Regions from separate parts of the Homo sapiens genome. Here all the other regions are linked to region 3. Evidence: fine-mapped expression QTL. A gene starts in region 3. Each other region holds a variant in brackets. All regions are shown on one strand. Distances are from middle to middle. Region 1 overlaps CNTN4 (contactin 4). Region 2 overlaps CNTN4 (contactin 4). Region 3 holds the start of CNTN4 (contactin 4).

The links. PIP is the estimated chance that this variant, and not a neighbour inherited with it, causes the effect.
Region 1: its variant is the best candidate, but not a certain one, in a credible set for the expression of CNTN4 in thyroid (GTEx, PIP 0.68).
Region 2: its variant is the best candidate, but not a certain one, in a credible set for the expression of CNTN4 in atrial appendage (GTEx, PIP 0.78).

What each region holds. Positions count from the first base shown.
Region 1 is chr3:2,416,289-2,426,829 of GRCh38, reverse strand. The region is part of intron 3 of CNTN4 (contactin 4); the gene reads right to left. Among named protein-coding and RNA genes, the nearest start is that of CNTN4-AS2, 280 kb to the right of the region's middle. RefSeq lists an enhancer at 7,830-7,999. The variant T/C (reference allele first, on the strand shown) is at 5,662.
Region 2 is chr3:2,988,285-2,998,825 of GRCh38, reverse strand. It overlaps CNTN4 (contactin 4), which reads right to left. Exons shown (of 25, transcript NM_175607.3): 14 at 10,354-10,481. Among named protein-coding and RNA genes, the nearest start is that of CNTN4-AS1, 68 kb to the left of the region's middle. The variant G/A (reference allele first, on the strand shown) is at 6,265.
Region 3 is chr3:2,094,124-2,104,664 of GRCh38, reverse strand. CNTN4 (contactin 4) reads right to left here and starts at 5,799. Exons shown (of 25, transcript NM_175607.3): 1 at 5,687-5,799; 2 at 4,026-4,107. It overlaps LOC124909338 (a long non-coding RNA gene), which reads left to right and starts at 6,410. Exons shown (of 2, transcript XR_007095785.1): 1 at 6,410-6,518; 2 at 6,707-7,084. RefSeq lists an enhancer at 9,236-9,843.

The DNA.
Region 1 (10,541 bases), 320 kb before region 3:
AATGGATAAATTTCTGGACACATACACCCTCCGAAGACTAAACCAGGAAGAAGTTGAATCCCTGAATAGACCAATAACAGCCACTGAAATTGAGGCAATAATTAAGAGCCTACCAACCAAAAAAAGTCCAGGACCAGACAGATTCACAGCTGAATTCTACCAGAGGTACAAAGAGGGGCTGGTACCATTCCTTCTGAAACTATTCCAATCAATAGAAAAAGAAGGAATCCTCCCTAACTCATTTTATGAGGCCAGCATCATCCTGATACCAAAGCTTGGCAGAGACACAACAAAAAAAAGAGAATTTCAGACCAATATCCATGATAAACATCGATGCAAAAATACTCATTAAAATACTGGCAAACCGAATCCAGCAGCACATCAAAAAGCTTATCCACCATGATCAAGTGGGTTTCATCCCTGGGATGCAAGGCTGCTTCAACATAACGAAAATCAATAAACGTAATCCATCACATAAAAAGAAACAAGGACAAAAACCACATGATTATCTCAATAGATGCAGAAAAGGACTTCAACAAAATTCAACAGCCGTTCATGCTAAAAACTCTCAACAAATTAGGTATTGATGGGACGTATCTCAAAATAATAAGAGCTATTTATGACAAACCCACAGCTAACATCATACTGAATGGGCAAAAACTGGAACCATTTCGTTTGCAAACTGGCACAAGACAGGGATGCCCTCTCTCACCACTCCTATTCAACATAGTGTTGGAAGTTCTGGCCAGGGCAATCAGGCAGGAGAAGGAAATAAAGGGCATTCAATTAGGAAAAGAGGAAGTCAAATTGCCCCTGCTTGCAGAAGACATGATTGTATATTTAGAAAATCCCATTGTCTCAGCCCAAAATCTCCCTAAGCTGATAAGCAACTTCAGCAAAGTCTCAGGATACAAAATCAATGTGCAAAAATCACTAGCATTCTTATACACCAATAAGAGACAAACAGAGAGCCAAATCATGAGTGAACTCCCATTCACAATTGCTTCAAAGAGAATAAAATACCTAGGAATCCAACTCACAAGGGTTGTGAAGGAGCTCTTCAAGGAGAACTACAAAGCACTGCTCAATGAAATAAAAGAGGACAGAAATGGAAGAACATTCCATGCTCATGGATAGGAAGAGTCAATATCGTGAAAATGGCCATACTGCCCAAGGTAATTTATAGATTCAATGCCATCCCCATCAAGCTACCAATGACTTTCTTCACAGACTTGGAAAAAACTACTTTAAAGTTCATATGGAACCAAAAAAGAGCCCACATTGCCAAGACAATCCTAAACCAAAAGAACAAAGCTGGAGGCATCACGCTACCTGACTTCAAACTATACTACAAGGCTACAGTAACCAAAACAGCATGGTACTGGTACCAAAACAGAGATGAAGACCAATGGAACAGAACAGAGCCCTCAGAAATAACACCACACATCTACAACCATCTGATCTTTGACAAACCTGACAAAAACAAGAAATAGGGAAAGGATTCCCTATTTAATAAATGGTGCTGGGAAAACTGGCTAGCCATATGTTGAAAGCTGAAACTGGATCCCTTCCTTACACCTTATACAAAAATTAATTCAAGATGGATTAAAGACTTAAATGTTAGATCTAAAACCATAAGAACCCTAGAAGAAAACCTAGGCAATACGATTCAGGACATAGGAATGGGCAAGCACTTCATGTCTAAAATACCAAAAGAAATGGCAACAAAAGCCAAAATGGACAAATGAGATCTAATTAAACCAAAGAGCTTCTGCACAGCAAAAGAAACTACCATCAGAGTGAACAGGCAACCTACAGAATGGGAGAAAATTTTTGCAATCTACCCATCTGACAAATGGGTAATATCCAGAATCTACAAAGAACTCTAACAAATTTACAAGAATAAGTCAAACAACCCCATCAACAAGTGGGCAAAGGATATGAACAGACACTTCTCAAAAGAAGAAAGACATTTATGCAGCCAACAGACACATGAAAAAATGCTCACCATCACTGGCCATCAGAGAAATGCAAATCAAAACCGCAATGAGACGCCATCTCACACCAGTTAGAATGGCGATCATTAAAGAGTCAGGAAACAACAGGTACTGGAGAGGATGTGGAGAAATAGGAACACTTTTACACTGTTGGTGGGACTGTAAACTAGCTCAACCATTGTGGAAGACAGTGTGGCCATTCCTCAAGGATCTAGAACTAGAAATACCATTTGATCCAGTCATCCCATTACTGGGTATATACCCAAAGGATTATAAATCATGCTGCTATAAAGATACATGCACACATATGTTTAGTGCGGCACTGTTCACAATAGCAAAGACTTGGAACCAACCCAAATCTCCATCAATGATAGACTGGCTTAAGAAAATGTGGCACATATATACCATGGAATACTATGCGGCCATAAAAAAGGATGAGTTCATGTCCTTTGTAGGAACATGGATGAAGCTGGAAACCATCATTGTCAGCAAACTATCACAAGGACAAAAAAACAAACATCACATGTTCTCACTCATAGGTGGGAATTGAACAGTGAGAACAGTTGGACACAGGAAAAGGAACATCACACACCAGGGCCTGCTGTAGGGTGGAGGGAGGGGGGAGGGATAGCATTAGGAAACATACCTAATGTAAATGACGAGTTAATGGGTGTAGCACACCAACATGGCAGATGTATACGTATGTAACAACCCTGCACGTTGTGCACATGTACCCTAGAACTCAAAGTATAATACAATTTAAAAAAAGAAGCTAAACTACCTCTTTTATGAGAATTTTGAAAGGAATTTTGACAGCCATGTTGGTGTGCTACACCCATTAACTCGTCATTTACATTAGGTATGTTGCCTAATCAAAAAAAACCCCCTCCCTCCACCCCACAGCAGGCCCTGGTGTGTGATATTCCTTTTCCTGTGTCCAAACATTAAAAGGCAAGAAAATAAGAACTATTACTCCCACCATAGACCGGAACGATGTTCGGCACCAATTAATTCAGCAGTACTTGACAGAATTTATGTATGGTAAAACTACCCAGTAGGAGGTTTTGTAATTAACAGGGTATTAAAAGAGAGCAAAAAATCAGTTTTGGAACAGATGATGCTACAAAACTACAAATAGCTAGATAGCAATCTAATGATTATCCAAGTCATCAAAACTTCTACTTTAAGTAGACAAATACTGGACTTAATATTAGCAAAACCAGAGCAAATTTTTCATCAACATCTTTTCTCTTTTGTAGTGAATTTAAGGTACATTTTAGTCATGTTTATTAATGCATCTATTTTGGGCAAAAAGGATTCCACAGAGGCACATTTGAAAAAAAAAAAAAAAACAAGTTTTCACCCTGTCTTTCAGAAACCACTGACTTCCTGCTTGCAGCATCGAGAAGTGTGTCTGGATGAGCATGATCAATGTTCATTAAACGCACTAAACTGACAGGTACACAAAATGGCACCACATGTTTGTGCATCTGAGCTTTCTATAATGAATAAATGGAGCGTGTGATCCCAAAGGCAGCTGCACCAGCCATAACTTTGTATTTGACACTTGACTGCTCTTAGAAGTTTGTTTGTCAAAAATTGTCCATTTGGAAAAAATAAAGAAAGAAAGGCAACAACTTGTGAGGCTTTCCAGAGGGCAGTTACACAAAAGCTTCTTAGGAACACCACTTCTAGGAGTCAGACTGTTCTCAGATGAATCAATTATTTATTTAATTGGTTATCAGTTCATCACTGTTGAAGTTCATTCTAAGTTCATTCCACTAAAACAACGCAGTCGCTTTACATGCTAAAACCCTAAGTTAATGTGAAAAAGAGGGCAACTAAAGCCAATGCTGCTTTTTCAGTTTGGCATGGAAATTCAAATTCGGCACTAGACATCCAGGACAGGTGGCAAACAGGAGTAAAAGAAATTTAGTTCCTGGACAACACACCACTAATTAATTTCCAGGAAATGTTATATCTCATTACCTGATGGTCCCTCCATGTCTACATGTGATAAAGCAACCCTTTGAAACCATGCCACACTCAGGCATTAGGGGAAACAGAATATCAGCAGCTCTCTCTTTATGTCAAAAGATCTCTACACTATGTGACAAAGAGCTAAATGTATTTCTTTCCAATTCTGAATTATTTTAAGGATGTACAGAGATTCAGGAAATCAATAAAATAAATTCTTGTAACCCATCCAGACCAGAAATACCAACAATCTATAGGGAAGAAGGAATTGGCAGTGAAGACCAGCTTATAAAGCAATGGCTTTAGATATAAGCACTTGATCCAAAACTTTGCTTATTTTCCTGATATAGGCTGTCAGGAATCCAAATAGTGCTCACTATTACAAATCATTTAGAACTTCTAATTGAGAAGGTACCTGTGGCTTCTAGAGGCTGTGAAAATGACAACATCTGTTTGGAGTTGGAAGGAACATTGCACACTATCAAATTCAGACATCCCATTTTATAAAAAGCTCTAAAGCCCAGGTCTCCTAACTCCTGAACTACTACTGTGTTTCTACCATGGAAATGTCTGGAAAGAGGGGGAAGGAGAGTTCCTTAAATGTAACTGGTATTGGAACCCAGGTTAAGGAGCAGGGGATAACACAAATTGACTTCAGAAATTGGTCTGCATTCCTCTATGGGCAGTGCTCTAGATGTGGTTAAAACCCCTCTCTAATTCTGTACAACTTCACCTCTGGTGAAAGCCACTTAGTGACACCTTGTGCTGCCTTTTTATTTTACTATTTTATTTTCTGAGTACGGAAAGATAAACTTATCCATAAAAGCTAATTACAGAGGCAGGATTAAATAGTGGCTAGGAGTACAAAATCAGGTACACTAATTTTTTTTTTTTATGAATGACATCTAAAAGGAAGGGAAAAGTACAAATTCTCTCCCAGACTCTTACTTCCTTGTGTGTTGTTGAGCAAATTATTTAATCTCTCTGTGACTAAAGTTTCTCCTTAGTAGAATGAGAATAGCATTGTTAGCTCAAAAGATGAGTTTTATTGCAGAGAAATATTGTAAAGTACTTAGCATTTTTTCTAACAAAGTAAATATTCAATAGTCAGCAATTGTATTACAAATGGTCTTGGTGTTTGCCCTATTTTCAATGAACAGATGTTAGAGTTTGGGGAGAACACATATGTCATTTAATAGAATGCCCAGTGAAGATGTGAAAAGGGCTTCAACTACTGATTGTCTGGTGCTATCCACTACAACAGAGAAGAAAAAAGAAATCAAGATAAACAATATGAAGGCTGGGGCTGGGAGCGGTGGCTAACATCTGTAATCCCAGCTCTTTGGAAGACCAAGGTGGGCAGATCACTTGAAGTCAGGAGTTTGAGATCAGCCTGGCCAACATGGTGAAACCATGTCTCTACTAAAAATACAAAAATTAGCTGGGCATGGTGGCAAGTGCCTATAATCCCAGCTACTCGGGAGGCTGAGGCAGGAAAATTGCTTGAACCCGTGAGTAGAGGTTGCACTGAGCTGAGATCACGCCACTGCACTCCAGCCTGGGCAACAGAGCCAGACTCCTAGTCAAGGAAAAAAAAAAAAAAAGAAACCCCCTGAAGGGTACCCACCCTAAAGCTCACTCCTAGTCACCTCTAATGCCTCACAAGAAGGCATTGCTTGTTATGCAA[T/C]GGTGGTCATTAAGGTGATGGGGGAGGGCTAAACTGGGACTGGAATGTGAAAAATGTACCTGAAGCAAGGACTCTTCTGCAGACTCTTTCAACAGGGCATGTGTTTGCCAGTTGGGTGTGGGGTGTGTCTTAGTTTGAGTTTTCCCAGAAGCACATGTGTACTTCAAAAACAGGGCAAACACTGGGATCATTTAAAATGCAACTGCTGGGTCCTGAACGTTTACTTTATTAGGCAAAACGTGAAGTACATTCTTTCTCTGACAAAATACGGCCATCTCTTGAGGTAAGCAGTGCTATGCCATTTTACTGATCAGAAACGTTAATCACAGAAGCAGACTCTAAAACAAGTATTACAGTGTAACTAGTTTAAGAAGTGCAGGCCAGAAAGAAAATGAGGAAATGACAAGGGGATTGAAGGCGTCCAGTAAAGAACATTTGGCCAGGCGCGGTGGCCCACAGCTGCAATGCACTTTGGGAGGCAGAGGCAGGCAGATTACTTGAGGCCAGGAGTTCAAGACCAGTCTGGCCAACATGGTGAATCCGTGTCTCTACTAAAAATACAAAAAATAGGTGGGCATGGTAGTGCATGTCTGTAGTCCCAGCTACTCGGTAGACTGAGGCCCAAGAATTGCTTGAACCTGGGAGGCAGAGGTTGCAGTGACCCGAGATTGTGCCACTGGACTCCAGCCTGGGGGACAGAGTGAGACTCTGTCTCAAAGGAAAAAAAAAAAAGAATTTTCTATTCAAGCAGTGAATATAGCAGGCAATCCTGCAGAGAAACTCTGACATGACATAAAGCACACCTCACAGAGTTATCCCACCAGAGAGGTGAGAGAAGTTGGTATTTATACAGCACCTCTTGAGAGTCATTAATTAAGAACTATTCCTAGAGGGTTTTCTTTCTCCTTATATGAAGCTCACTTGTGCATATAAGCAGTGCAATTTCCCACAGTTTTTGGAAAAAGTGCTGAGGAACAAACCTGCAGATACTAGGAGTTAGAAGCATTCCTCAGAAACACAATTAAAGGTCTGAGGCATATGGATAGGGCACTGACAGCACCAGCTGCAGGGAGTCACAATGCTTGCTTGTACTATTGCACTGTATGAGGAACAACTTCTAGCAAATTCCCTGACTCTACATGCCAGACTGTCTTCCAGATGTCATGTTGCCAATGACCGTGGCTTTTGGCAGCATCCACACCTGGGACAATTCGATCTGTAACTAAAAATTACAGTCATCAAGCAGAGTAATTATAAACATTTAATAGTCTGAAACCACAGGGAAATAAGTATGTGAGCTGATATATTTGTATATGTTTGCATGTATAGGGAAGGAAAAGAAAAATGGGTCCTGGAAACCACACACATTTGTATAAACATGATTATTCCTTGAAAGACATGGTAAACTCATTTAATACAAGAAGGCATTTGGTTTTCTACAGGTTTCCTTAACATATTCTTTGCTTCCTCATCATCTTCTGCATGACACTATGTTATGTTTGTTAGTGGAAGTAAGTTTTAAAAACTGGTTGAAAATTTCATTTTAGATTTATTTACACAATGCTATTTGACATTTAAATGCTTTATCTTTTAGTTGCAGACTTCACTATTCGCAATGTTACCTTATGTTATCCATATTACATTTCACTAAAATGCCAGCATTTTTTGAAACATTGGGCTAGAATGGACTTACGGGTATCAGTTTATTCTGTACCCTGCCTAGGAACAAATAAACGTTGAATATATCCTGAACACATGAGAATCTCCAGAGGTAGATCTCCCCACTCCCACCTCTTTATTTCTTGATAGAAGATTCCAAGTTCTTTATTAACTCTATTCCTAAAAACTATAAAGTCTTAATAAAGTTGAATGTTCTAAGATACAGAAAGCTACATTAGAGTGGAATGTTACCTATATTCATTCGAGCTTTTCATCCAATATAATTTTTGGTATGTAACTCATGTCAGGAAATTACCTGGTATATGATTGATTACTTGCAATAATTGGAATATAAACTATTACTCAAAGCCACTTATATTTTCTCTCATAAGGGGTATCCAATTTTTAGAAATTATTTTTAAACGTGAACCATATAGCCATTTAACTTCTACCAATTAATCTTACTCATGAACCCTGGAGCTAATTTTAAATAATTTGACTTTTCCCATAAGATTCTGAGGAAGGCCTTTATCTTTTTGGGCATCAGTGCCCTTGTCCTGGCATGAGATCCAAAGCTTTTTTCATCCTACGGGTTGTAGGATTCTTTCCTTTCCTGGGATTCTCTAAACACAATAAAAATACAAACATCTAAATACAAATATCATGAACTGTAAATTATTCCCTTCTTTCACAATGCAAGCCAACATGGATTTAAAATGTTACTGATTACTTTCATCAATTCAATGTCCCTGATATTGTTTTATGTATTATTTTTTCTTAATATAACACCTTTGTTCTTTTATATATCAGAAATGCTGAAATATTTCCTTTCCTATAAACCCTGGATGTGCTTTACAAAAGTGAAACCTTTTTACTGATTCTTTATTTCAGCTTTATCAGCAGTTATTAAATAAAGAAATGCAATCGCCAAATTACAGCCTTATGCTGACACTGGACCATGTTAAGTAGTGTATAACAGAATCAAAAGTAAACATTTGCTACTGGGGCAAATTCTATTGTATCTAATGATTGAGTATCTAATGATTAGATTGATCTAATTTTAGTACCTGGGCTGTGAGCAGTTTTACGTTTTGAACCCTATGTCTTAGTTAGCATTTGTAAATACTTTCTGTGTATTATTTTGAAGAGGTTGTTCTAATCTCACATTTTGCCTCTGTGGTGATTTTTTAACAGACTTTATTTTTTCTAGGCAGCTTTAGGTTCACAGCAAAATTGAGGGGAAGGTGCAGAGATTTTCCATATATGCCTGCCCTCCTATACACACAGCCTCTCTGAACTATCAATATACCTCACCAGCGGTATATTTATTATCATCAGTGAACCCACATTGACATATCATTATCACCCAGAGTCCGGAGTTTACATTAGGGTTTACTCTTATGTTTTACACTCTATGGTTTTGGAAAAATTTGTAATAACATGTATCTGTATCTATCATTATAGTATCATATAGATTAGTTTCACTGCCGTAAAAATCCTCTGTGCTCTATTAATCTCTCCATCACCCCAAATCCCTGGCAACCACGGATCTTTTTACTCTTCCCATAGTCATTCTACCTTTTCCAGAATGTCATATAGTTGGAATAATAAAGTATATAGCTTTTTTCCCAGATTGGCTTTTTCACTTAGTAATACACATTTAAGTTTCTTCTATGTCTTTTCATGGCTTGATAGCTCATTTCTTTTTAGTGCCAAATATTATTCCATTCTCTAGGTGTACCACAGTTTACTTAACCATTCATCTACTGAAGGACATCTTGGTTGCTTCCAAGTTTTGGCAATTGTGAATAAAGCTGCTAGAAACATCAGTGTGCAGGTCTTTATGTAAACATAAGTTTTCACCTCCTTCGGGTAAATCTCAAGGAGTGTGATTGCTGGATTGTATCATAAGAGGATGTTTAGTTTTGAAGGTTCTAATCTCATTTTATTAGCTAGTTTATTACAATCACTCCCCTAGAGGTCTCCTGGCAGGTTATTAAAATGAGGGAATCGGAATGAAGCAGAAATTCACAGCCTTTCTCATGACCCCAAAGTGAAGCAGGAAAGAGCTCAGTGCAAACTCAGTATTTCTGAATCCAAATCTTGATTGTGGAATTGAGGTTACTGTTTTTGAAACCAGCTAAAAATAGGTAATCAATGTTCCTGTCTTGTTCTCAATACATTAGAAAGAATACAAGACTGAAGGGACTGGATTCTGGTCTAGAATTTTTCACCAACTGTCTACGATGATACAGTCCAGCAGTTATTTATCTGTAGTTGGATAACTGCTGGATTGTTTCATCATTTTAAGCTTTAACACTGACAAAAGAGAGGAAGTGGAGAAATGGAAGTAAGCTAAATGAAAAGCAGATGTGCTTCTGTCTGGTCCAGGACAGATAAGTACCTGAAGGGAGCGGGCAGCATGTCCCACACTAAGGGAGCTGAAGCCCTTATTTATAACCAGTCTGCCAGCTCTCCACTGAGAAGGTTAATTCTCAAACTGTGAGACTTCTGCTAAACAAAGTAACTCTTATACCATAGAAAGTTGCGACACTGGGCCGGGCGCGGTGGCTCACGCGTGTAATCCCAGCACTTTGGGAGGCTGAGGCAGGTGGATCACAAGGTCAGGAGCTCGAGGCCATCCTGGCTAACATGGTGAAACCCCGTCTCTACTAAAAATACAAAAAAATTAGCCGGGCGAGGTTGCAGGCGCCTGTAGTCCCAGCTACTCGGGAGGCTGAGGCAGGAGAATGGCGGGAACCCGAGAGGCAGAGCTTGCAGTGAGCTGAGATCACACCACTGCACTCCAGCCTGGGCGACAGACAGAGACTCCGTCCTAAAAAAAAGAAAGTTGCGACACTGGAAAGCCCTCTGATTTTTGTTACATCACAAGTCATACACGATTTTCAGAAGCAAGAGTGGCATCTGGAAACTCCAATGAGGAAACATGAAGAGTCAACAAATGTAATATCCACTAATGAAGCTCAATATTCCATTTTGGGGAAGCCTCCTACTTCAGTGTGTTGATTTCCTCATATGTAACACAAGATGGTTAGATTACCTCCCAATTTTCATTTCTGTATATTTAAATTACATTTTACATATGTTATATAACGCAGATATTCCTACTATCTCCAATTTAAAAATGAAAAACTAATGGCATTGATAAATTAAGTAAATTTTGAAGGTCACAAAATTACTAGGAAAAAGTTAATTAGGGC
Region 2 (10,541 bases), 890 kb before region 3:
TAAAAAGGGAATCAAAGTATTTGCCTATTTTCCACAGTTCCTGAAATATGAGCAATAGCTATGGGTGTGTTCCCCTCACTTTTCCACTGTATTTTCCCTGAATATGCTAGGAGCCTTCATGTACTGGGGCCATTAGATACATTTCTTTTTCCTGGGATTACCTTGACTTTTTTTTTTAATCTGGTAGACTCTTACTCATATTTCAATTCCCTGTTCAATTGTCACCTTTACCTCTTAGTTAGTTTTGCCTCCCTTTGTGTTCCTTCTGTACTTTGAACACAGCTCTGTGTCTTTGTTTATCAGTATCTACTCCTAAAGGTTGAGCTCCTAAGTTTGCAGGCTTTGTTGAGTGTAGGCATTCCCTGAAGAACTTGTTGAAAATGAAAATTCCTGGGTCTCATCCCTGGAGATTCTGGTTCTGCAGGTCAGAGGTAGGGTCCAGGAATATGCATTTATTTAAAAACTCCTACGTGATTCTGATGCTTGTGGTCTACGGCTCACAATGGCCTACAGGGAGGAGACAGTTTTGTCTTTTGTACCTTTTGACTATTCCCTCATATTTGGACTGCATCAGAGTGTCCCTTCATCAACTATACTGGTCATTATAATTTAATTTCCTTTGTCTTACACATGAAGAAGTTGAAGTGTTGGTACAAATTGCACAGTGACCAGGTGTTCTACCCATGCTGTGGACAAAGCCAATGGAGGCAGATACATGTTCTATCAGGAGAGATGTGGGCCAGGCTTATTAAAGTATACATGGAGGAGAAGGCAGTTCTGATTTGACCCTTTGGATCCTCCTCTTCTAGGTAGAATCCAAGCTTTACTTACATTTATAAGCAGTTCTACTTTTGAAGAGAGAGAAAAGGGGAAAAAGTTAATAAGATGACAGTTGGTATGTTTTCCAGTTTGGGAAATCTTCAAAGCAATGTTGCTAATCTTCACTTAATTATGTCTTGCACTTTTGCACACTGATTATAGACCTGCTAGAAGGCCAAGCAAAAAGCCACTGTTAACTCTAAATGTTCTGCTTACATTTCCTCTCCCATAACCAGGAACCTACTTTCACCTCCTCAAATGGATACATAAAAGAGACAACCATTTTAACTTTTTAGAAATGGATCTTCTACAGTAAATCAGAGAGAGATGATGAAAATGTTAATTAACTTGCTTTCATCTTGGTCAGATTCTGTATTTAACCTAAAGGCCTAAAGTCTTTTGGGCAGTTTTCTTAAATTTGATTGCCTGCGACAGCCAAAGAAATTCAGTCGTGATTTGGTAGGACTGCCTCTTTGAGAGTTATACTCCTCCTGCCTCTGGCACAGAAAACAAATGCCAAAACAGGAAGGGGAGAGTCACTCATGAATTATTCTGACACGTCTCCTTTCTGATTCAAGCTTTATAAGAAACCAAGCTTTCCCTTTCAGACCTGGGACCAACTGTTGGCTCCCCCCATGGGACCACCTCTAACATACAAGGAGACAGATGATTTAAAACATACACATAGACATACCACAAACTCGTCTTCTTCTGAGAGATCATGTGCACATAAAACCAGTCTACATGACAAAGCATCATTCTCAAGCCACAGGAAGTTCAGATGTTTAGAGACAGAAGGTAAAAGTGCCTAAGTTTTCTTTTCTCTTTATTTATTACACAATTAGCCATTTAAACTCCATTTCAGCTATGGAAATTATTTTTAAAGACTCCATAGTTTGAAAACAACCTACCTTGAGATTTAAACATTTAATGAACTGAAAAGCTTAACATAAACCATTTCTTTCCTTCAGTAAAGGAATAGCTCTATGGCAGGATGACAGAAGGAAGATGACAGATGTACTTTAAAAAGATATGCACGAGAAAAAGATAGATTTTTATTTATGTATTTCAAAAATATATAACTGTAATAATGCTGAGGATGAGTTCAGAAGTGGTAGCAGAGCTAGGTGAGAGATCTATGCTTTTTAATATCAACTTCCTCTGGAGTAAGAATTTTATCGCATTCATAGCTAAATCATACTGATTATAAAACAGCTGAAATGAGGCAATTAGTATGGCCTATGACAGTCATGAAGAATGAAACATGTGAGGTTTTCAATGCAAGCCAGATGGATAGCTTCAATATATTTCTTATTATCTTCTTGTGGTAATAAGTTCAATTAAACTGAATCAGTATAACATAAGTCTCTTTGAATTGCTGGAAAAGAAATTAATTATGTGCTTCACATATAATGAAGCCAAAGAGTCATATTCTGTTTGCCTTTTTTGTTTGTTTGTTTTGTTTATTCTGATTAGTAAATATTCATTACAAAAGAATTCATTAATTCATTTTATAGGAGAGTTTTTTCCTTACAAGAAAGAAATTATTTGTATGGGATGGGTTAAATATCACCAGGTAAAAGGTGTCTCTTCTACAATATCTGAGAGAGAACTGAAAAAACAGACCTCCTGTCTGGATGGCTTTGCCTGCAATATCTGACCATGTAGGATTCTGACCTGAGGTATTCTTTTTAATTTGAAATATTTTACATATAAAACTACAACAAAAATTTACCAATATGTGCTCATATTCCCTCTTCCAGAATTAGAAGGCTTTAACACATTTTCATGTACCTCCAGCCTTTTTCCCCCCATGAATATATATTAAAAATTTACCCAAACAGATATTACCAATACAGCTAAAGTCCTTTCACATAATCTCACTCCAGGCATCCTCCCTCCAAATACTGAGTTAGGGCTTATGCCGCATGTGTATTCTGTATGCAAACATTATAAGGTATTATTTTATATTACTAATTTTATATTTAATCATACAATATATTAAATAAAATGATACCATATGTATTATTCTTTAATTTCCTTGTATTTTCTTTTCATTACAAACAACAACACAAGGAACACCTTTGCAAGTCTGCCTCAGAACACGTGTGAATCCCACTAGGTTAAATGCCCAGAAAATGGAATTGCTGGGCCATGGAGATTGCACTTTCTCAATTTTACTTGCTCTCCACAGTATCTATTGCAATTTCTATCCCTACTGAGAGTGTGTGAGTACCATTTTCCTCACATAGTCACCAACAAAAGGTACTGTTAGATGTTTCTCTTTTGCCAGTCTCATATGTAAAAAAATCACACCACACAGATGCTTACATTGCCTTTCCCTGATTATTAATGAGGTGATGTTACCACACAAGCTTCTTGACCCACAGAGTGTCTTTTATGCCAAAAGCAAAAATACGAGGCCTGTCTTCAGCATAGAGGCTTTGCTACGAAAGACAGAGTTGGCATAGAGAAATGTAACAGTTAAGGAATTACATCTTCCCTCTAGACCAAGGATGGAGAAGTGATGGGCAGGCTGGAGTCAGGGCAGACTGTCATGGTATGCAATCAGCATTACAAAAGGAGAGAAGGTTTTTACAGAGAGATTTGGACAAAAGGGGAATCATTCTACTCATGATTGATATCGCCAAAGGCATGTTATTTGCTCAATCTACGTGGCTCTCACACATGTCCATAAGAATGTCAGAGGAAATAATCACACCCTGTTTCATCAGATTTCCAGGTTATGTCACACGCTTTGTGAACACAGGAAGAACAAGATGCACAATTACCTACCCTTCTTTTAAGATTCTCCTACCATAGCTGGTACCAACTCCAGGGTGACAGATCTCAGATCTAACAGGATCTAGTATTGAAATGTTCTGGCCAGATGTTCTTCTACTGAGGGACCTACCATAATTAGCATTTAGCACTTCTAATGACAAACTTTTCCTTCCTACTCTAGATGCCTAGGGTCACAATTTGTGTTAATCCTATTAGAAATACCCTTAATTATCACCCAGAAATAATTGGTTCCAGTGGAAGATATCTAATTGGGTTGAAATGTATTCAGTTATAAGGGACCAATGTTAAAAGCTTTTGTTGTGTGTTAGCAGCCAACCGTCATTGTATGTTACTGATTTCTGATTGATCCCCTGTCAAATCTGTATAAAGCCTTGAACAGTTTTACATAGAAGATTGGGCTGCTTCAAACTCATTTGCAAAATAAAGTTCCAACTGAAAAGACTCTACTTTATTGCGTCTATTATGCTATGCATGGAAAGGTTGATATTTCCCAATGTCCTACAGTTAAAACAGAAGAATTTTATATAGTGCGCAATAGTAATGCTGTAGATACTCTTTGGTGCTGGTACAAATATATATATACACACATATATATATATATATATATGAAAAAATCTGTTGATTTAAACATAAATAAACTTTCTATGGGGTGAACAATGAGCACTCTTTCTGGCAATAAAGGAATCCGTTAAATGCTCAGCTAAACCACAGGAACCTTTTCGGCTTGTAGGGTTGAAGAATGAAAATACAAAATAATTTCTTGTTACGTGTATCTGTGATCTTAGTCAATTTCCACTAAAGACTTCTTTTCTATTAAAGCTACTTAAAGTATAAATTTATTTTTTCTTATTATAAAAGTAATTCTATGCACTGAATTTAGACATTTAAATAAACAGAAAAGCCAAAAGAACTCTTTTAAAATCCAGACAGAATTAGGGTAAAACTTTATATAGTCAATTTCAAAATAAAAAAAAATTGCTATTAGAGGAAGAACATGCAGTCTGAGAATTATGAGGTAAAGGTGGAACAGTTCTGCTGATTTAGGCTGGTGACGGTGGGAGGTTTAGGAAGAGAGAAGTGTTTTAAAAAAACACCAGGTCATGTGCTTCTTACTTTAGGGTCTTCTTAGCTTACTATTCTGGTTCCAGCTGTGTGAATCCTCCCCACATGCTGGAGAATCAAATTGAATTATTGTTCCAGTGTCTGCCAAGTAATTTTCCTCCTCCCTCTCAATCAATGATTTATTATCTCTCCTCTGGATTTTCAACTCGTATCCAAGTTCTAAAGTCAACTGTTTGGATACTGGGGTGAGGCTAAGGTCCTGGGAAAGAAAACTCCCTACCACTTCCAGCTAATAATCAGACTCAAGGACATGTGGAAATTTCCAGCATGCAAGATCAGCAGGGGTACAAGAAAAGTTGTGTATAGCTTGGCCAGACTATACCTTGGACAGAATTTTGAAGATCTGAGGAAGAGAAAAAGTTATCAAAGAGAGGATAAGTATTTTTCTTTTCTGTGAAGGACTTACTAGTAAATATTTAAGGTTTTGCAGAAGTGGCAAAGTTGAGGATATTATATAGGTACTTATATATTACACAGTCTCGGGGGGCGCAGTGGCTCATGCCTGTAATCCCAACACTTTGGGAGGCCGAGGCGGGCAGATCATCTGAGGTCAGGAGTTCGAAACCAGCCTTGACCAACATGGTGAAACCCTGTCTCTACTAAAAAATACAAAAATTAGCTGGGCGTCGTGGCATCTGCTTGTAATCCCAGCTACTAGGGAGACTGAGGCAGGAGAATCGCTTGAGCCCGGGAGGCAAAGGTTGCAGTGAGCTGAGATCTCACCATTGCACTCTAGCCTGGGCAACAACAGGGAAACTCCATCTCAAAAAAAAAAAAAAATTACACAGTCTCTGTCATAATTACTCAACTTTGCTGTTGTAAGGCAAGAGCAACCTTAGTTAATATGTAAAAAAATGACATGGCTATGTGACAACAAAACTTTATTTATGGACACTAAAAGATGAATTTCATAAAAGTTTCATGCCCAAAAATATTATTGTTCTTTTGGTTTTTTTCTCAACCAGCTAACATGTGAAAACCATGCTTAGCCCCTGGGGTATATAAAACAGGTATGGATTTGGCCCACAGAGCATAGTGTGAAACCCCTGAAAATGCAATGTTCTAAACTCTGATGTGTATAAGGATCAATTGGGGTATTTATTTTAAATGTAGGTTTTTCCAGGCCTCCTCCCTAGGAGTTAGATTTGTTAGGGTAGGAGTGAGGCCCAGGAGATCTGCACTTCTAATATGCACTCTACTGAACTGTCACTTGCTAGGTGGCATGCATGTACGAAGTTCTTTGGTGTAGGACAGTGTTTCCCAAAGTATAGTCTGGAACCACCAGTTGCAAAATTGCTCAAGGTCAGTTTGGATGTAGTTCAGCACGATGACTATGTTAACAGCATCCACAGCATACTGCCCTACATTTTGAGTCCTGGAGATAATCAATAGGAGTGAGGGTTGCTATTAACATAGTTATCTTGTTGAACTACATCCAAACAAATACTCTAAATTGCTCTTCTCTAGGACTGCTACTTAAAAATATCTGTCATATGAAACCTGTATAGCAGAGGCACT[G/A]TGTCATGCAAAATCCCCACCCACCACCACCCCTTTAACTCTGCTGTAGAGATAAACATGATTTAGTAAGTACAATATTGCATATAAATGTACCCTGCCCTCTGTAGAGTTCTTAATGATGTCAATGATCACAAAAGCACATTTTTGTTTAAAGGTCTAACATTATGCTTTCTGTGAGTATTTGAGGGTTTGACTTAAGAACTGTTCTTGCTTAAAATGAAACAGCAAACCAAATCCCAAGTATATTATAACTAGCCTGAAAAACAAAACCAGTAAAATTTAGGAATTCAGATGATGGGATGATAATCAAGAGCCCCCTGGGCACCTGTCAGAATTCTGCAGTTTGGGAGCCTGCTCATGCAGAATCTGAATATTTATTCATGTGATGATTGCTTGTCAGAGGTTTATTCTAAACCTCCTGTATCTGGTGGAATAGATGTGCCACCTCCCTCTCCTCCCCTACCTGCTGACCCTGTGTTTGACACTATCTTCAGCCTCTCTCCGAAACATGGGGGCAAGGGTAGGGAGAAAGAGAATTGGATTTTGAAAGCATGGTTAATGATAGAACTATTGTAAAAAGGTTAGAAAAGATATGTTCTGACGCCCGACCTTCACGGTGTTTTAATCCCAGACACATGAGGAAATCGGAAAGAATACAAGCACATTTTAAGGTTACAGAACACCTTCTCTGATAAATTAGTCCCTTTGTAGATCTCAAAATTGAATTAAAATACAGCGCTCAGTCATATTTCGGGCTAAGCTGTTACACTTGCACTAAAGGTGCAGGGCTCAAGCATTTTGATGTGGGATTCAGGACTTGGCACAGTTCATGCGGAGTTCAGAATGGTTTTCTCTGCCTATATCGTGCTTTATGGGGCAGATTTTTAAATTATATTTCTCAGTTTATGTTAATGTCCTTCTTGGAGACCTCGCACTGTGGATGGCCCCTCTGCAGACACACGTACTTCCCATTAATGCTAATGGGAGTGAGAACCAACCACACTGGGAGATAAATGATCCCCCAAATCTCTTCTGACCTTATCTAAAGTAACAGGATTGTTAACTCCTGAGAACATATTGGCCAAATAAAACTTTTTTCCCCCACCTCACCTAGAAGAAGAATATAAGAATCAGAGGACCTCTGTGGAGAAACTAACTGCAGCTCAGAACCAGGAGCCACTGCCAGAAATAACTCTGCTTGGAAACACATGAATTCTACCTGTCAATCAGGCTACCTGGGCACATCATCCCTTAACCTCATGGCTCATACCTACACATCCCTGCCTTCCTCTTTTTGTACTGGGCCAGGCTCTTCCTACCTCAGTCCCTCCTCGTTCTCTCACCTATTAGGAAATTTCAGTTTTTAAAGTGTTGTGCATGTTTCAGCGAATCATGTGGCTAGCATAGGCAGGACATACTAATTCTGCATCTATAAGTCCACTAAAACTCTCCTGGAAATTGTCCTCAAGTCATGTTTCCTAGTTTTAGACATTCACATATACCATCTTCATGATTTTTTGCATATCCTCCTATAACAATGCATATTTAGTACTTTTCTTTGTACCGACTCACTTCTTTACGTAAATTTATTTTGAAATATTGTTGTTATTATTGCCGTTAGTGGAAAACTAGTGTTCTCCTAATATACCTTGAAAGAAACAAATAGTTAATAAAATTTTAAAAAATTGTAACTGTAAACTGCCTAAAACTATATCCTATACTTACTTGGGTGAATACTTGTTCACATTTTACTAGAAGGCAAGAAATAAATTATTTTGTTTGTTAGAATAGGTAGAAATTACTATCTTAGCAATATTTATAACCACACAAAAATGAGGCAACTATAACGTATTTAATCCCTGATATATTTGTAGGCTTTGCATCGTGATTCAGTGTAAGATGAGCAGCAGGGATCTGCACAGTTGGTTGGGAACGGTTTTGTCCTGGGGCTTGTGGTATCACTGGGATGCAAACTCTGATGGGAAATAGAGGCCTCTCCTTTCTGCCAACTCTTGGGAGAGCCAAGGAAGCCAATACTTATAAGAAGGATGATAATAAAATACAGAACATACCTTGTTCCTACCTGTGAAAATACCCTACTTTTAACAATATGAGACACCATATATATGGTTTCTATGCTTAGCTGTTTTGAATCTTTCATATTCTTAGTCATTTCTTTATTATAGGCTCACTTCTCTATGCTAATTATTCTATTGGGGTGGAAATATCATAAATGTTCATTTCAACAGGATTTAGAATACACGCATATCCATTTGAAAATATATAAACAACAAAACAAATACTAATATTTCTTAGGTGCCAGACACCCTGTTAATCGCTTAGCATGGATTACCACAGTCATCAGAACAACCTCATTTTATGAAAACATGTTTATAAACAAAACAACTATTAATATTTCCTAGGTGCCAGGCACCACACTAATCACTTAACATGGATTTTCACAGTTATCAAAGCGACTCCATGAGACTGGCACTGCTATTATCCCCACACAGGCTAAGTGTCTTGTCTAAGAGCTGGTAAGTGGTAGAAATGAGACTCAAATCCAGATCACTCTGACTTGAATCCCTGTCTTTTAACTATGATTTAAGATGTCAACCTAATATTCTCTTATATCTCCATAATTCACAAATAATCTATAACAGATCCCAGCTCTGTGTCTAACCAGCTCTGAAACATTGAGATCTCTCTTGGTCCTAAATGATTACTAAACTTCCTTTAGCCAAGACAGTCATACATTAGCAAAAACCTCTAGCTAGAACTGCACTTTACAAATATTATCTAACCTCTTTTTCCTTTGCCTATGAAACAGAGTGAACAAGCAGTCAGTCATACACTGATGCTAGTGCTCTGAGGAAGTAATTAATAGACTGAAATAGTTGTAATCAATCTAAACATATATTTAGTTCTAACTCTTGGACTTCCAATTTTCTATCTGCATGGTCAAGTATGTTAATGATAAAAAGACTTCCCAAAAGAGTAGTACATTTCCAACTTCTAATGACCCTAAAATATTTAATTAGGTAATTTTTAGCTTTCTTCTTTAAATTAAAGGCAAATTGTTTTTTTTGATATTTTTATTTGCCTTCATCTGTCTTCACCAAGGGAACTACAAATGGGCAAGAAGGAAATAATATGATATGACCCATCTGTATAAATTACTCAGAAACAGGAAAGGCTTCCTGTTTCCTGGTGCAGCATAAAGGACCAAGAAGAACTCAGAATCAGGATCTGGGTTCAGGTCTCCTGCTACTCGTGACCTTGAGAGAACCACCAACCTGAGCCTCATCTTCTTCAGTCAAATCATTGTCAAGATCCCTTCAACTCAAAAATCCTATGACAGGGCAATATATAAAGTGAAAGAAATGCAAATGAAATGTAAATTAAGATTTTCTCCTTTTCAATGGTTACTTAGCACTTCCAGCCCATGCCATGAAGCTAATATTGAAATAGTTTCACTCACGTGCTTTGCTAAGAGCATAAAGGACTTTCTGCTACAAAAATTATAAAGCACCCAGGCTATGGTATATGGGAATTTTATTTCCTTAAAACTGACAAGGTTGGCTGGGTGACTAAGGCAAAGCATAGAGGTGATCAAAGCCTTCTATTAGTATAATAAGCCATATCCATATCTCTGAATAAATGGGACAGCTATCTTAAAAATTACCAATGTCATTGTTTAAACAATGTTTTCTAAAAATAGTACATGAGTCTTGAGTTTTTAATTTGTTGGAATAGTGTTCCTAGACATGAATTTCAAATCTATAGAGACTTGAAAGAAATTTAATTAAAGGATTGAAGATAACATTCGTTACAATACTATAAGAGATACAATGGCTATAATTCTCAAAATTGTATTGGATGATTCTGAAATAAGATAGCCTTTCAATCATATTCATTACCAGCAGTTTTCTAAGAATTATTAATCATATCATGTTTGCCGTGATGAATTAATTTAGCAATACAGTGGTATCTGTACATATTAATATGAATGATGCCACTTCGGTAGATTACATTATTAGACACGAGGACACATATATAAATATTCGAATTCTTTGGGTTAGCCATTACCTTTCACTACCAAGTTTCCAGTACTGCTAGCAGTTCCAAAATGGTTAGTGGCTATACAGGTATAACTCCCAGCGTCTGATTTAGTAACGTTGATGATTCTGAGGTTTCCATCTTCAGAAATGGTAATTCTGAAATCAAAGTAAATGAACCAAAAATGGTGAAATTTATCTCATATGACCTATTGCAAA
Region 3 (10,541 bases):
CCCAGAGGAATGTGGGCAGAAGTCATGACAACCACTTCCAGGCTGTGCCTACAACAACCTCCAATAAGACTTCTCTGGATTATTTATCTCCTCACACTCTGTATCTTGACTGAATGATGAGGACTCTAGGTACTTAAAGATGAACAAAGCCATAAAACTCTAAGGAACCTGATTCCCTGAATGACCCCATGGACAGCCACTCAGTCAGGATCTATTCTATGAGTACTGAACTACCACACATGAGCAAGAAGTAAAAAGTTAAAATAAGTCACTGAAAATTAAGAGCTTATCTGCTCATGTTAGCCTGTTACAAGGCCCTGTGGAATTTGGCTGAAAACATGACAGTAAGCACATGAAAACCTCTCCAGCCCTCCAACCCCATTAAATCATAAGAAGGGACTTGAAACGCACACACACACACACACACACACACACGTAGACATAAATGGCACAGAAGTGGAAAAAATTGGAAGAAAGAGGAGTTCAGAAAAAAAAGCAAAATTCTCAGGATGTGAGGCTCAGGGAAAGTAAAGAGGAAATGAACAGGGGCTTCTGGGAAAGAAATGACTGGTAGGTATACAGTATTTATGCCTACCTACATGGTAAGAAGATACATATCATTACCTAATTGTGAAGATGCAACAAATACATACTGAACAAGAGGAAAAAAATCACTCTTTAATGTTGAAACAATAACTATCTTAGCAAAAAGTATACGCTTACTATTGACCACTACACATTTCCACTGCAGCCACTGGGAACCAAAACTCTAACAGGCATTTTTATGAAAGACAAATACATAGGAAACATAAGATGAGGCAGATTCTCTAATGGAAATGGGACAACAGGATGAGAACAAGAGGGACCATTTTCTTTTAGACGGTACCTGGGATATATATACAGTCCCCTTAGTCATATAGAAAATAAAGATAAATAAATAGATAAATAAAAAATAATTTTGCAAAGCTCATAGGAAAAGAAGAGGGTTTCCTTTCTTGGAGGATGGGGATATTGATAAAGAGCAATACCTTTGATCAAAAGTTAGGAGAGGCTATTTTAGCTGAAAAACCTGCCAGGGAAGATATTTGTTTCTGCTGAGAAGTGAAGAGGAATTTATCCTCACATACTGAAGCATGAAAGTGGTAGCGCAAGACTCCCACAATAGAATCTTCAGAGGAAGGTTATAATTCAAGGCACAGACCCTGAAAATGTGTTTATCACAAATGAAAGAGCAGTTGTAGTGGTGAAGGGTGTGTAAGTGGGGGGAGTTACTTTAAATATCTGCTCCTGATCCTGGTAGGTATTCAAGATAAAGCTGTATCATATCTAATTCCATTCCAGTATGTTTTGGATTATATCCTTTTTTTCTACTTTAGTATTTTAAAAAATTCTCTTGGCAACTTTTTTATATATAGGCAAAAGTAAAAAGCGGTCCAGTGGCTTAAATAAGAAAAGTATTGAGGCAAAAGCAAAAAAAAAAAAAGCTGTTAAAAAATCAATTCTGGAGTGAGAGAACCTGGTTCAGATCCCAGCTCTGCTACTTACTAGCTATGATGAACAAATAACTTAATTTCTCTATGCCTAGTTTTCCTCATCTGTACAATAGAGATAATATTAGAAGGGCAAAGTAGGGCAATGTGCTTTAAAAAGTATCTCAATAATAGTAAGCATTATGTATGTATTAACTGCTTCTATTATTATTTATTGTATCCATTCCAGTTTTTCTACCAGAAAAAAAAAAAAGCAAGGGTTAGGAGAAGAAAAGGAAGTAACAGTTATTGAACATGGAAGAAATATCACATATAGTAATAAAACATCAGAGAATGCTAGTTGTTCCCCCAACAATTTCTTCTACTTCCTGGATAACATTTCTAGACTATATTTCCCAGCCTCCTTAATAGTAACGTACATCCACAAAGAACTGGGTTCTGGCCAGCACAATGCAAGGAAAAGTAATATGCACTCATTCCAGTTCTGGGCAATTAACATCCTCCCAAGTCTTCCTCTTTCCAATGGCTTGATGCAAGTAAGCACAGTGACCCTGCTGAAGACGGCAAGGGCACAGAACAGATGAAGGCTGGGTCTCTGAATCACACTTTGAAGGAGTACTGCCATGATCACCCATTCTGGGACTTCACACAACCGAGAAATAAATATATTTCACATCTGAGGCAGTATCCCTTTTGGATCTGTTATATCTGCTAAAGAGCCAATCTAAAAGAGCCAAGCTCTTGACCCATGTTGACTCATGCTCTCATGTTTAATCCCTATCGTGATGCCGTGAAATAGATGTTATCCCAATTTTATACCTAAAGAAACTAAGGCTCACAGAAATTAAGGAACTACATTGCCCAGGACTGTAAATGTAATAAATGATGGTGCCAGACTTAGATTCAGGTTAATCTGCTTCAAGGTTTATGAACTTTCCAGCCTCCACACAACACTGCAATGTGGAAAGTGTCCTTCCAATCCTCCCTCATTTACTCCTTGGATTCTTCACTTCCTGACCATTGGTACTTAGTCTTTAAACTAAAACTCCATTTTTTAAAATTCACCTGTATGTCTACTTTGGGAGATCTAAGATGACATCTCCAAAACACATTCATCCTTTACACCTCATTCTATCCACATATGAGTCCATGAGAGGAAAACAAGTGTGCTTAATCTATTTGTTACAGAAGATATAGAAGTGTAGCAGTTTTACAACTGGCTAGAGTATCAGAGATGATGAACAGCAGAGCAGAGATAAGGAGAGAAAGATTTTAAAAATATCAAACCAGCAGTGATCTTTAAAGTGTGCTACACACCCCAGGGGCTGTACAAAATGATCCACCGGGATACATAACAGCAACATGAGACCTTCTATTTCATAATTTTTGCTTTATTCATCTTTTTTGTTTCTTTGTGTGTTTTATAAGTAGTGTATCATATAACAGCATGTCTTCAGTTTATAAATAAATTTTATTGATATGTTGTCAGATTTCTTCTGATAGTAAATAATAATAATAATGAAGATCAATAAATCTAGGCAGTAAATCCTGCCTCCTTGCCTCCTTCACTAGGCTTAAAACATAGCATTACAGGGAAAAATGAACAAAAAGGAACAAAAAAAATCAGTGTGTAGAGACTTCCCCCTGCCTATCATATGAAATAGACTTATTCAACTAAAATAATATAAAAGCAAGTTTTTACAAAATATTAATTTTTAAGATAAGAGAGATTGAAGCTAATGCATATTATGTCTGTCCTCAAATATAACAAAGAAGAAACAACAAGTTAAAATCATGATCAGACAAACTTGTAGAAAAGTCAGTACCATGCATGGGAATTTTCTGCTGAGCAGCTTTATTTTTTTAAGACCTAAATTGAAGGAACGGATGCCCTGTATACATTTCAGAAGAAAAACTGCAGCCAAAAGATTTAGTGCTTAGATCGGAAAAGAAATCAGAAGACCTACTTTTGAACAAAAAGGAGAGAGAAGTAGGTAAAATAAGTGAATGATAAAAAATCCAACATCATTTGAAAGGTTTGTTCTCTAATCACTCTTAATTACCTGCCAATATGAAATGACCATGGAAAAAGGTACTGCATTGACTCCCAATTGACTTGAAAAGTTTTACAACTCAAAGAAACTGAAAAGTGTTGTTTAAAAAACTGCAAATAGGAAAATCTACCTCTGTTGAAACTTACATGTGGCTCTGACATGCACCCTTATCCAAGTCACTTCTCTTAGACTCTTAGTCTTTAATTGAAAAGGTCAGTTTTTCCATCCTTGCCAGCTACCTCCCAGGGTTCAGATGGAAAAATAATGACGTTTATCAGCATCATCTCTCCTCAACAAGACAGAGCAGTTGAAACCAGCTTCAACAAACAAATCAATAGCTATTTTATAAGGTAGCAAAAATAATATTCTCATGAAACTTGTTTTTGATCCTTAGCAATCTTACCTACTCCTGCGACCCACTGCAGATATTCCCACAAAATCTTTAAAGAAATCAAGATAAAAATAGCAAGAATAAACTTACGGGTAACGTGAATTTTCTCATGAATGCCACCCAAATCACCTCCAGGTGCCTGTCTTCATGACACACTGTTCTTTTTCACCCACTTGGGTAGAGAGAGAGAAAGAGAGAACAAACTTGCTATTAGGCAGACTTGGGAACGCTATTGTATGGACCTGCTCATAGGCAACCTATACAGTCTTTACGCTCCTACCCCACTCTCTAAAGGACATAAACCAGAAATCTCAAAAAACAAAAAAATACAAGCGCGTTCCAAATTATCTTGTGTGGGTATCCAAACGACTCAGTTATGTGGAGTTACTCCTTGAACTATCCAGCTCCCACTACAGAAAATTGAAAGAGCTTCCCATGCAGTTAAATGCCACTGTTATTCTGACAAACATGTGCCCGCCCCTATGTTGATTCCAGCAGGAAAACTAGAAAAAGTTCCACGACATTCCTTTCAGGAACTCCTCTTACAAATAAACCTCCAACACACCTCAAGATCCGGCCCACTCTCCTCCACGCAGACCACACACCCAGGGTGCTCAGTCACACTGACTCGCCCTACACAACCTCCGCCAGCTTCTTCGCACCGAATCTGCAGACCCTGGCCAGCAAGCAACCGCCTGATCTTCCCGACGCGCGAAGCCGCCTCCTCGCAGGAGCTTCGCTGCGAAATGTTTCCATGCAGCCGACTCTCTGGCTGGTTCAGAGGGATTCAGGAGCCCACGTCCTCCTACCCTCACCTCCACACCCTTCATAAATAGTAAAACATATACACGAAGCACAAGAGAGAAAATGCACGAAGATTTTGAGCCCCGCGTTCCAGAAGGAGAGTGAGTGGATTGGGGTCTGTGGGGCGCCCGGCGCACAGTTCGCCGCCGTCTGGGCCCGGGGAGGGGACGGGGCGGTTGTCTTGCCTCTCGAAAGAAACTGGAAACCCCCCAGAAGTTGCTGGAAACGAATGCCACCCAACAGGCTCCCGCGGCAGAGACTGGGGAAGCCAGGTACCTTCCCTAAGAGCAGGCACCTGGCCTGTCGCTCGCCGCCGCAGCCTCAGCGCTCAGCAGCCAGCCCGGCACCCAGCGGGCGCCACAGACATCAGCCTCCGTCTCCACGCGGCTCCTTCCACCACGGCTACGGGCTCCTGTTCCTTTAGTCCCAGGTCCCTCCACTCCCCAGGTTCGCGTCCCTCTGCTGCGGGCTGTGACTGGGCTGTCAGAAGAAAAGCCCCGCCGGGAACCCGGCGCCAGAGGCCAGGGCGCACGGAGAGGGGGCAGTAGCCCGAACCAGTCGGAGGAGCTGACTTGAAGGCTTCCCGCAGCATTCCGGGCTCTCGGTTCCTTGTTTTGTGGCTGCCTCGCAGCGCAACAAACTTATTTTCCGGCTGAGAAGGAGAAGAAGGGTCGCTGTGGGGTGACGGTGGCGTCGTCGGGGCCCTGAGTCCTCCGCGCTCAGGCGTTCAGCTCCCGCTCCCCGACCCTGCAGGGCTTCCGGGCTCTGAGCTGGACGGCCCCGCAGACGCTGCCCGGCCCCGCGGGAGTCAGAGCCCCGGGAAGCGCCCCTGTCCTTCGGGCAACCCGCGCGGACCCTGCCCTTTCCCCCCCACACCCGCGACCGCGTCCCCGGGGCATCGCGCGCCCACGCAGGAGCCGGACCCGCACAGCTGCCGCCTCACTTACCTCAGCACCGGGGCGCCGGGCTGGCGAGAGCCTCGGGTGCGGCGCCGGCACAGTCCGAGGGGCCCGGGGCGGCGGCGAAAGCTCCCTACTTGCAGCCAATCCTGGCGTCGAACCCCGGGCTCCGTCTGGCGCGGCGCTGCCCTCCCTCCCGGCGCTCGCGGCGGCTGGAAAAACCTGGCGCGCCGGAGTTCGGGCTGCCGGCTCCTTAGCCGCGGGGCGGGGGAGACGCTCGGGGAAGGGGAGAGGCGCGGGCGGGTGGGAACGGGCGGGAGACGAGCGGGGACGGGGAGACGCGCCGGAGGCCCGGAGCCCGCGCATGCTCAGTGCGCGGCCGGAGGAGGCGAGCGCTGGGGACGCAGCACCTGCCCCGCGCGGCCGAGAGGCGGCAGCCCCAGGTCCCCAGCGCGCGAAATTAGTAAAGGGCGCCTGGCCCGATTCTCAGGCAAGAGGAGATTATCAGCCGGATTCCCGTGCGGGGACGTAGGGGTTGCGTTGTTCAGCGGCCAGGGATGCGCCGAGGCGATGTCTCCTCCCTTTACAACCCGAGTATCGGGGCACGAGGAGGCGCGACCTTCCTGGGTACCCAAACCTCTGGCCTCCGGGAGACGCGGAATTCGGGGGATCGTTAAGGCGCCCTGGCCAGGGAAACAGATGCTTCTGCGTCTGGGCTGAAAATTGCTGAACCGGGGAATGTGGGTGGGCGGGTGGCATTGAACTTAGGCCAGAAGAGGGGGCTTTGGTAGGTTTTTACCTGCCTGTCCTTAGGCGGAGGACACTGGCTGGACAGGCTGCGTTACACACCTGAAGTCTCATCCACGCAAAGTGCTTTCAGGTTGGAATGTGGGGCGGGGGCGGGGGGAGGTCAGAGGGAACAGTTGCTGTAAATTAGGTACAAGGATCAATTTGTGGTGTGTTGTGCGCGGGGGTGGGGCATGTCGAAAGCCTTGTTATTCGAAAGAATGTGCTTTGAACGACGTTGCCACGGTCATTCTACATTATGAATCTACTGTTTCCTTGCAGAAGTGGCTCCCTTCGCCGCAACTCCACACCTCGGGGTAACCGTAGAGATTGGCAGCAATGCCCCAGCCCCTCACCAGCACTGTGCAAAGTGACTTTGACAGGCAGAGAAAAGCCAACCCAGTCGAATTCGTCTGGAAAGCATTCCAGCAACCCAGAGAGGAGCCTCTGTTTCTCTCTCTGGGAAAAAGCCCCAAGGGTTTTGCTGAACCCAGGTCTTCCTGCTCATCTCTCAGCAGTTCAGAGCTACATAAACAACTTCTGACCATTTACGCAATCATGTAAACCTACCCTGACATCTCCACTATGTGGAAAAGATGTTAACTGGAAAACTATTTTTAAACTACTGCAGTAAGCAAATAAACATCCAACTCCAACATATATATGCAGCAGCCTTATTAGTTCATTCAGTGTTGGTTTGGTTTGTTTGTTTTGTCTTCTGCTTTTTAGAATTAATTATTATCTTTATAATTCCTGTTCGAGAAGTGGGCAAAACCAGGCTAGTGATAGGTATTGTTGTGGTCAAATTTTTCATCACTTGAAATTCCATGACTTTCATGATTGCTGAGATTAATGCTAAATAAAGAAGTTACCCCCCCGCCCCCACCCCACCCCAACCTCCCCACCAAAGTTTCCTGATTACTTAAACTTGGAGAGAAATTTTCAGGCTTTTTCCTCCCTCCTTGCCTGGTATGTGTCTGTAATAGAGGTACTTTTGCAAAACTGGAATGTTGGTGATGCAGGTGTTTTCCATGGTAAACAGCCACTGAGGATCAATGGTTCCCAGGTTCCCACTCACTTTGAAGGCTTTTGTGCTTCTGCCGGAACTGTGACTTTTACTACCTGTACTATGTATGATTTTTTTTTACATTGATTATTTCTCTGCAACTAGTCAATTAAAAGTACATATATATAACTTTTAGTAAGACTGTTTATCAAAATATGCTTCACCAGAAGTTCTCCAGAAAATATTCCTGTGTAGTCATGCATACTCCTAACACATTAAAGGGAAATGTCGTGTTTTAGACTGGACACAGAATTTCAGAAAAGAACAAAGAATAAAATATGCTGTCACATTCTCCCACTGGGACTATACATTGAAGCAATTTTCAAAGTTTTATGACAATTTCAGGCAAAGTCCCTTAACTGTGTTTCTAAATTTCAAATGTACATATTTTGTTTCCATTCTCCCCTTTGGCCCTTATTCTGTGCCTGCTATATGCTAGGCATTGTCTTCTAGTAGATTCTGGGAAACAAACTAAACATGACCAAGACTTGCTCCACAGTTCACCATGTAGTTAGGAAAACAGACATTGTGTATCTGGAGAGACAGATTTGGGTCGTGTTGAGGGGATATCAGTTAAACGTTAAGTTAGGAGGAGGCATTTTTTCTTTTCACCAACACACCCCCACACTGATCCAGTGCTAAGCTTGTTCAGTCCCTCCCCAACATTTTCTCTAGAACAGCAGCTAGTTTAAAATGCAGCCAATAATCCAGTCCCTTTTTTCCATCCTGCAGCAAAGAAGCGATGCTCAGCTGCCACCTCTGCCAAGATAGAAAGCCTCTTGCGGAAGCTCCCAGGATTGGGGAGTGTTCCTAATAGACTCAACCCCTGTCAGGGGACAGAAATGGTTTATTTTGATGACAACAGCCTCACACGTGTGTCTCTACATATCCAGGACCCCGACTGCGTGTCCGTTTCTTGATCAGGGGACCTGTGATTGGGATTCTCTGGAGGGGAATGTTCCAAACGAATCAATTAACGCCCCCAGCAGCAAGTTCAATACCACTGCACTGAGACCCAGCTCTGTATCATTGCATGAATGAATTACTGGTGCTCATGTAATTTGCAAATAATCATCATTCTAACACAGTGGAAAATTTCTCCTGCCCGTTTAGCCTGAGTAGCAGCTGAGCAGAGAGCTGCAATAACCCTCACAACACCCTCCAAAATAACTATTTACACATATGTGAAGTTTTACATCCAGGTCTTTTAATATGGGAGTATCTACATAGACACAAGGTCACCTCTTACACTCATTAAACCAATTGAATGAGGACTGATAACTCTTAAGGGAAATCAACGCTGAAACCGCTTTTGACTTTTTGGAGACATGAATGGAATACATCATCAGGTTTTACTCAGCATGCAACCGTTGTGCAAACTCCAGAAAGGGCATCTCTCTGTCCCACTCCCCCATTACCCCTGCCTTATTCCTTCTCTACACATCTGAAGATTTGATAAGTGGGGATTTACTGTAAGAGGAGGAAAGAGGAAAAGCATCACAGGAAAAGAAATACCTCTTTTCTGACCACATCTGATTTGATGCTATTTTCTCCTTACTCCTGGCATCCAGTGGGATTTTAAAAAACTCATATATGCCACCTTTCTTTGTTCTAAATGACTTGAATAAGGTCGTTCAATGGCAGGAGCGACTCAATCAGATAAAAATGTGCAGGTTTTATAATTACGGTTTTACTTGTTTAATGTATAGCTACCTGAATAGATCTTCAAGCATAAAGTAGCAATTATCCCATCCCTGATTTTAAAATATAAACTCAAGTTTGCTTTAATTAAGTAGATAAATCAGTATTTAAATAAACAATTGTATCAAGAAGAGCTTTGTGTTCAGTTTCGAACTGGAGTATAATAAAGTAGAACTCAGCTAAGGACTTTCAAACCAGCCTTGCAAAGCTTCCTTCTATGCAATTGTTTTAGGTGACTGATTGACACTTAAGCTTTAAACTAAGGACATTGGACTAATAATGGGCCCATACTGGGATAATGATAATTAGCACACAAAAGCACAGTTAATTGCCATGAAGGTTGGACACAGACTGACAGATAGAGTCAAAGTAAACTAGAAACCTGACACCCCAGCCAAGATTCCTTTATAAACGTGGCTGTGAGACACCCACTGAATTTAAACATAATAAGGTGGAATTAGGGACCAATCAACTGTTTTCTTAGCCACACGTTTTCCAGATTTTTTTGGATTCTTTATACAAAATCCAAAAATAATTGTTCCAAAGGTCTATTAGTTGCAAAAGTATTTATAGTTGATTTCTGATGTCCTCAGTAATTATGTTCTATAAAGTCACTGCAAACACTGGAGACAATAAAGGGTTATGTTCCTGACAGCCTCTGGTAACAAGATTTTCATCAACTGATAAAGATACCTTCTTTAATATATACTGTTGATTCATTAACATAGAACTCATGGCCTGCAGCACTGTAATTCTTGCCTGAACAAAACTTATCTAACACATGTATTTTCTCTGTGAGGCACATCACAGCTTTCTTTTGCTTAGGAATGCTAGACAGCACTCCAGCACTGTGCTCGAGGCCATTTTAAGCAGCAAAATCACCAACAGAAAAACCCAAAATTTGAGAAACATGCACTAAATATACTGCAAAAAGGAGACTTTTTTAGAATATGAGAGCTGAAACAAGAACACAGAGCATCACTTTGTTTGATCTAAGCTGGGAATGTGTGCATTGGGCAACTACAATTTTTATTCTCTGTGCATCTACAAATACCTCTGTGCGTCTACAAGTGTCTACTCAAGTGCCTTAAGTATTGACTTTGGAGTTATAAGTAAATTTCAGTAAGTGGGCAAATTCACAAATATGTTATCTGTGAATAATGAGGGTCAACTGTACCAAATGTCTCCTTTAAACGGCCACATCCGCCCATATGGTATGCGATTCAATTTAGAGACATTCAATTTATACAGAATTCATCAAATCATTTATCTTTTCATCTTATCCTAAACAATTTACATTGTATTCACATAACTGTAATTACATATTTTCTTAAATATTTTCATTTTGTT